Linked DNA regions of Homo sapiens. The protein of the gene in region 2 interacts with the protein of the main gene of each other region in a pairwise test. Each region holds a gene or a part of one and is shown on either strand. Other genes may lie near its edges. The genes, in order: KIF2C and ZNF566.

What was found.
Region 1: the proteins of ZNF566 (region 2) and KIF2C interact in a two-hybrid assay, tested with the Homo sapiens proteins (one large-scale study listed by BioGRID and IntAct).

Annotation. Positions count from the first base shown.
Region 1 is NC_000001.11:44,753,206-44,757,024, reverse strand, and holds part of KIF2C (kinesin-like protein KIF2C), read right to left. Parts: coding exon 3,771-3,819; intron 3,293-3,770; coding exon 3,192-3,292; intron 2,276-3,191; coding exon 2,180-2,275; intron 1,097-2,179; coding exon 1,042-1,096; intron 951-1,041; coding exon 788-950; intron 1-787. UniProt on the Homo sapiens protein: In complex with KIF18B, constitutes the major microtubule plus-end depolymerizing activity in mitotic cells. Regulates the turnover of microtubules at the kinetochore and functions in chromosome segregation during mitosis.
Region 2 is NC_000019.10:36,475,746-36,479,564, forward strand, and holds part of ZNF566 (zinc finger protein 566), read right to left. Parts: intron 872-3,819; 5' UTR 813-871; coding exon 804-812; intron 1-803. UniProt on the Homo sapiens protein: May be involved in transcriptional regulation.

The DNA.
Region 1 (3,819 bases), on a different chromosome or scaffold from region 2:
AATTGCTTGAACCTGGGAGGCGGGGGTTGCAGTGAGCTGAGATCTCGCCACTGCACTCCAGCCTGGGCAACTGACTGAGACTCTGTCTCAAAAAACAAATAAATAAATAAAAATAAAATAAGTAAATATCCCTATGAGGGTACTGGGTGCTGTATTAGAAAGAGCAGATCTGGGGCCAGGTGCAGTGGCTCACACCTTTAATCCCAGCACTTTGGGAGGCCAAGGCGAGCGGATCACCTGAGGTCAGGAGTTTGAGACCAGCCTGACCAACAGGGCGAAACCCTGTTTCTACTAAAAATACAAAATTAGCCAGGTGTGATGGCAGGCGCCTGTAATCCCAGCTATGTGGGAGGCTGAGGCAAGAGAATCGCTGGAACCTGGGAGGCGGAGGTTGCAGTGAGCCGAGATTGTGCCCCTGCATTCCAGTCTGGGCAACAAGAGCAAAACTCCGTCTCAAAAAAAAAAAAAAAAAAAAAAAAAGCAGATAGAGCAGATCTGGAGTTCCCCAAATCTGTGAACCCCAGTGGGCAATGGTGTGGCTGCATAAGGCACAGAAGAACCCCTGGAGCCTGGCCAGCCCTGCCTCAGCACGTAACGGGTGATACCTCATTCAGTATCCACTCAAGGATGGGCCACTAAGCTGCCAAAGGGTGTGACCCAAAGAAAACACAAGAAGCGAGGAAGAGCCTCAGAATTCAGCACGTCTGTGAGTAGTGTTACCACGATGTCCCACAAAAAAAGGGGATGGAAGGGCACAAGGAGGGAAAAATGGATGCAAGGGACTAACCTGTAGACAACTTCATTCGAAGCTGTTTCATCAAATGCAAAGTCAAAGCAGAATGCTTGGTTCTCCAGATACTTTGTTAAGTCCACTTTCAACTTGGGTTCATGTACCAAGAGGAGACACTTGCTAGGAATGGAAATCACATCAATTTCTTTCTTGGCCAATTCTGCAGAAGGAGAGTATTTCAGGGGGTGCTCCCTGGAAACAGAAGGCCCATTAGTCAGTCTGAAGCCTCTTCCTGACTGAACAGGACTTACCTTGCTTATTCAGTGGGCGTTTCCTAACACAGACACATATTCTGTGCTCTTCGATCTGCAAGCGGATGAGAGGAGGCAACCAACAGCAAAGGGTCAGAGCAATTTCAAAAGCGAGCTTGTCCAGAACTCCCACCCCTTCCAATCCCATGTCTGGCCCAGTCAGAGGCCAAGATCTAACACTAGGACCCCTGCATCCTCCATTAGATACTCCAGAGCACAAGAAGGGAGCACTGGATTTTGTTCCCATTTTTCTCACTCTGCTGCCTACAAGAGTTTCAGCACTACTTTCATGATTTTTACTAATGCAGGAATCTAGCCAACCTATGGTATGGGGGTGGAACCCAGTTTATAAAGATCAGACCCCTCCCCATGTGGGCCTCACTAGCTTCAGCCCACCAAAGGATATTAAAAAATAACCTCGGCTGGGCATGGTGGCTCACGCCTGTAATCCCAGCACTTTGGGAGGCTGAGGTGGGCAGATCACGAGGTCAGGAGTTCGACACCAGCCTGACCAACATGGTAAAACCCCATCTCTACTAAAAATACAAAAATTACCTAGGCGTGGTGGCACATGCCTGTAATCCCAGCTACTGGGGAGGCTGAGGCAGGAGAATCACTTAAACCTGGGAGGTGGAGGCTGCAGTGAGCCAAGACCATGCCATTGCACTCCAGCCTGGGCGACAGAGCGAGACTCTGTCTCAAAAAAAAGTAAAATAAAATAACCTCAGCCAGGCACAGTAGCTTACACCTGTAATCCCAGCACTTTGGGAAGTCAAGGTAGGCGGATTCCTTGAACCCAGAAGTTCCAGATTGGCCTGGGCAACATGGTGAAACCCTGTCTCTACCAAAAATACAAAAAATCAGTAGGGTGCGGTGGAATGCATCTATGGTCCCAGCTACCTGGGAGGATGAGGTGGGGAGGATCACTCAAGCCCAGGGAAGTGGAGGTTGCAGTGATCCAAGATCGTACCACTGCACTCCAGCCTGGGTGACAGAGTGAGACCCCATCTCAAAAAAAAATAATAATAAAACCCTCAAAGGTGAGTAAAGATTCCTGCATGCCCTCATTCCTGTAAAGAGAAGTTTTCTGTCTCTCAATTGTACACTTAAGAAAGAGAAGTTCTTTGGATGTACTTACAGGATCAGTCATAGTAAGTGGATGACATTCCAAAGTAGCCCGAAATTCTTTAATCATTCGGGCAAATTCCCAGTTTGGAAAACTACTGTCATACTCCTGGTTTGAGACGAGAGTGAAAAAGGGCAGACTGTTAAGATATAAGTGCTCTCAGACCCCTATGCGGCAGCAGCAACAGCTCTTTGCTCACCACCCTTCATAGTTGTCAAAGTCCCTGCCCTGGCTCTGGGTTGAGAAGCCAGGTACAAAGCACTGGGGAAGAGATTGGCAGAGGGGCCTAAGCATACGCCAAAGCACGCTAGGAACTGGAACTAGGGCCAGTTCCACATTTTAGGAGGCACAGCAGATCGGGCTTCCCAGAAGCAATGAACCCAAATAAGGGGACTGTACTGCAGTCCCTGCCCTCCAAATACGTACAACTTGGGGGAGGATAGGAGAGAGCAGACCAATTGTGCCCTGCAGCCCCTCTGGCCATCACGCCATGTGAGCATGTGATGGGCTTGCTTACTAGACAGTCAGCATGAAATGTTCCTCATCTGAGGGCCTTCAGAAACATTTCTGAATTATTTGTTCTCTGAATCCTGATAAACCAGTTAAATTTCCTGGATATCAGAATTGGAGCGTCAGAGGCCAGGCGCAACAGCTCATGCCTACAATCCCAGCACTTTGGAAGGCCAAGCATTCCAGACCAGCCTGGGCAAAATAGCGAAACTCTGTCTCTACTAAAAATACAAAAAATTAGCGGCACATGCCTGTAATCCCAGCTACTTGGGAGGCTGAGGCCCAAGAATCACTTGAACCCAGAGGTGGAGGTTGCAGTGAGCCGAGATCACACCACTGCACTCCAGCCAGGGCAACAGAGCAAAAAAAAAAAAAAAAAAAAAAAAAAAGAATTGGGGCCTCAAGAACTGGAGCCTCAGAAATGCTGGGGCCCAACTGTATCTCTGTTGCCCGTAGAGTTTCGGTTAAGGACACCTGTCCAAAAACCCTTACCCTAGTCTCCCAAGAAAGGTACCTGAGCTCTCTTCATTCTCATTTCAGAGTTCTGGGCCTTCTTCTCTTCTCGCTTGTTCTTCATTTTTTCCACTTCCTTCACAAGACATGATTTCCTCCGAACTATGAAAACATAAAAAAAAAAGAAAAAAAAAGGAAGCCCACTCTGTTACCAGTTTAAGCCAGCCTACTCTTCTCTGGCTATTTACTGAGTACTGGGCCTTTCCCAGGGAGAGGCCTTCTCTAGATCCTTACTCTTAAATCACTATATGCAAAAAGAAGTAATAGATGTGACTCTCGGGATGGACAAGTCCACAAAGTAGTGGCCTGGCCAATATGAAGTCAAATAGTGATAACTGCACTCCAGTTCTAACCCAAGCTCTTCCTATGCATCTTGGCTACTTTCTCAACAACCACAGAAGTGAAACAGTTCTTGTTTTGTCTTGATAATGAAAGACTGATTCCATGGCCAGAGGAAAACATGCCCCCACGTGACAAACAGGGCTTGAACTCAGGTGCCAAGGTAGGCCAGGTTTAGGACAGGATGTAAACTATCTGTGCCTCACTAGAAGCAGAACAGCAGACAGCTCAGTGTGTCTACCTGAGTTCACAGGGTTTGCAGAAGAGCTGCCTCGGATGGAATGGACTTG
Region 2 (3,819 bases):
TTAGGAGGAAATGCATGTCCTTTTCCTGACAGGGGACCCTGGAAACCAGTGTAAAAAAAATTATTCCAAACCTGATCTGGGTCAGGTTTTTACATTACATAATTTTTACATTACATAATTCTTAAATCTCTTTATGGAAAGAAAGAAATAAGTATTCTTGATGAAACTGATAGGGGATTTTCTGATGGACATTAATCTAAATTAAAACTTCTTCAGAGAAATTTGTTATTCAACCACTTGGCTGACTAACAGTTAACAGTGAATTAATATAAATTTTTTTCTGGGCACAGTGGCTCATGCTTATAATCCCAGCTCTTTGGGAGGCTGAGGCGGGTGGATAACTTGAGGTCAGGAATTCGAGGCCAGCCTGGACAACATGGCAAAAACTCATCTCTACTAAAAATACAAAAATTAGCTGGGTGTGGTTGTGGGCGCCTGTAATCCCAGCTACTCAGGAGGCTGAAGTAGGAGAATCACTTGAACCCTGGAGGCAGAGGTTGCAGTAAGCCAAGATTGTGCCACTGTACTCCAGCCTAGAAGACAGAGCGAGACTCCATCTCGAAAAAAAAAAAAAAAGGGTAAATTTTCTAACAATGATTATGTAATCAATTCTTTTTTTTTCTATGAATTGGCCTGTTAGAGATCCTTTCCTTTACAGCAAAATTCTGACATTGCTCATAACCAAACTTTTTGAAAGGTGTTGTTTTTCTAACATCAAAAAGCATCATCATGAGGAAAGCAAATGTTTACAGTTACTAGAAGTAAAAATCACTCTATCTGAGCAAAAGGAAACAGTATCTCACCTGAGCCATGGCTCTGATATTTGTAGAAAAGGACCTTCTCTTGGCTCTTCTTTTGGAGAAGGGTAGAGCTGGGAGAGGCAAAAGAAGATAGATAAGACCCCACTTTCCTCACAGCTCCTGGCCCAGAATGATCATTTTCCTTCTGTTCATGCTTCAGAAATGCTTGTGGGGTATCAGTGAGGAGAATGGGCAAATGTCTCTATCATCCCTAGCTTCAAAGATACCAGGCTGTAACTGGAGCAGGATGGATTAGGGCAACTCAATATGGCTTGGAGAATATATGTTTATATACACACACATACATACATATAGATTTTTTTAACTCATATTATACACACTACTTATACACGTTGCTATTTTTACTTTACATATCTTGGAATGAAGTCCCAATTAGCACATATTGTGTTACATAACTGGTTTAATAGCTACATTGCAGTCCATTAAATGGATATAACTTAATTTTTTTTTTCTTTTCTTTTTGAGACAGAGTCTCACTCTGTCCCCCAGGCTGGAGTGCAGTGGTGCAATCTTGGCTCACTGCAACCTCCGCGTCCTGGGTTCAAGCGATTCTTCTGCCTCAGCCTCCCAAGTAGCTGGGACTACAGGCATGTGCCACCACGCCCGGCTAATTTTTTGTATTTTTAGTAGTGATGGGGTTTCACTCTGTTAGCCAGGATGGTCTCGATCTCCTGACCTCATGATCCGCCCGACTCCACCTCCCAATGTGCTAAGATTACAGGTATGAGCCACCGCGCCTGGCCATAACTTTATTTATTTAACCAATCTGTGGCCAATCATCATTTAGGCTTTTTCTAGTTTTTCACTGTAACAAACAATGCTGTAATAAATATCCTTGTGCATATGTCATTTTACCTGTATATGAGTTCTTCACAATTAATTCCTAAAAGTATAATTGCTCAGAGATTATACACATTTTAAGTTTGGATATACCTGGGTCAAACCAGTTTTCTGTTTCTGTTTTTTTTTTGTTTGTTTGTTTGTTTTTTTGAGACGGAGTCTTGCTCTGTCGCCCAGGCTGGAGTGCAATGGCGCGATCTTGGCTCACTGCAAGCTCCGCCTCCCAGGTTCACGCCATTCTCCTGCCTCAGCCTCCTAAGTAGCTGGGACTACAGGCTCCCGCCACCACGCCCGCCTAATTTTTGTATTTTTAGTAGAGACGGGTTTCACCATGTTGGCCAGGCTGGTCTCAAAATCCTGACCTTCCAAAGTGCTGGGATTATAAGCGTGAGACACCACACCCAGCCTTGTGTGTATTCTTTATAAACATCTTCACTTTAAGATGTTTAAAGTGCCCAAAAGAATAAGTTATACTAAAATACTAAAGGAAGACTACATTGTTTAAGGGGAAGAACTGAATTAGTGATCAATGTTTAAATGTTTAAGAAAATTTTGGTGTTTTGCTTATTAGCTACAAGAACTTAATAAACTTAAAATTATACAAACTATAAAGAGCACTATTATTCTCTATGCACCAAGCTTCTTGATCATTAAACAATTCATCAATTATTTCATATAAAACTGACCACCCAGAAAGTAGCACCATGTTATCAATTATCTAATGGCTTCCTCTACCCATAGGCACTCACTCACTGCATTTCCCCAGATGAATACCAAAGGAATACAAGTGTCTCTTCTTTAAAACCTAAATGCACGCTGATATTATTATTATTACTACTACATATTAAGCTCTTAGTATTCTTTTATCAACCAAATAGCCTATGATATATAATAGCCAGGCATTGTGCTAGATACTAAAGAGTCAAAAATAATCCAGAAAGATCTGGAAACAGAGTTCCTTCTTCTATATTCCTCATTTTAAGCCCTCCTTTCTGGTCTCTCCTCCTGGCCTTCCTCTGGTTAAAGGGATGTCTTCAAATGCTGTACCTTCCAAGCAGGATGGCATGAAACATTCCCACTTCAACAGCTCCATACCATGCTTGTTGCATTCTCAACACTCCTCATCTTTGCCCCAGAGGGCAGCCTCCCATGCTGAATTCTTACATCAGGGGATCTGCTCCTCTCTTTTAAATTCAGCCCTCATTAATGTAAAAAAAAAAAAAAAAAAGTCTCACGAAATAAGAAAGAAAACTTTCTCAACTTGATGAGTAGCATCTAAGAAATACCTACTGTTGGGAGAGACAGTTACCATGGGTCTCCACATTCTTAGGCGTCTTGCTGGGTATGCCTAGAATGCAAGATTCTAACTACTCATTTCCCAGGGTTATTTATGCAGCTGATAACCTTGAGAGTTGAGATAAGAGCACGAACAGTAGGGTTGCTTACTGCTGACTATAAAAGCAATGGATTATCCAGGCTCAGTGTTCCTCAGTGGCTATGCCCATGCACTGCATGAATAGCATCCATGTAGACCCACATGCTGTCCCCATGGGAGCTGAGAGAAATAGGAACTGATGAACACTGATGCCTACGCTGCTTGCTGTGCCATGAGTAATAAAGTCTTTGTCTCTGATCCAGGGGTCTCATGTTTTCTGCCAGCATTCATGAAACTAACAGGCTAATGTATGAGCTTGTATGTAGGAAAATATCAAATCCTAGAGCTAATGTTATAACTAATGTTGAAACACTGAAAAATGTCCCCCTGAATCCAGGAAAAAAAGAATAATGTGCATTATCATCATTTCTTTTTAACAATGTAATAAAGGGCTTGGCCAGTATAATAGGGCACGATGAAGAAATAAAAGGTATAAAGATTGGTAGGAAAGAAAGAAAACTATCATTATTCACAGATGATAAGTTGCAGACATAGAAAATCCTAAATAATAAATTCTTAAAATTAGCAAGTGAATTAAACAACATGGTCTCATATAGAGACAATATATAAAAATCAATTGCATTTCTAGTAACAAGTAATTGGAAAATTGTTTAAAATGTAAATACTATTCACAGTTTCCATAATAAACATCAAATACTCAGGTATAAAGCTATCAAAAATGTTACTAAAAATGACAAATTGGTAAGAGAAATTAAGGATCTT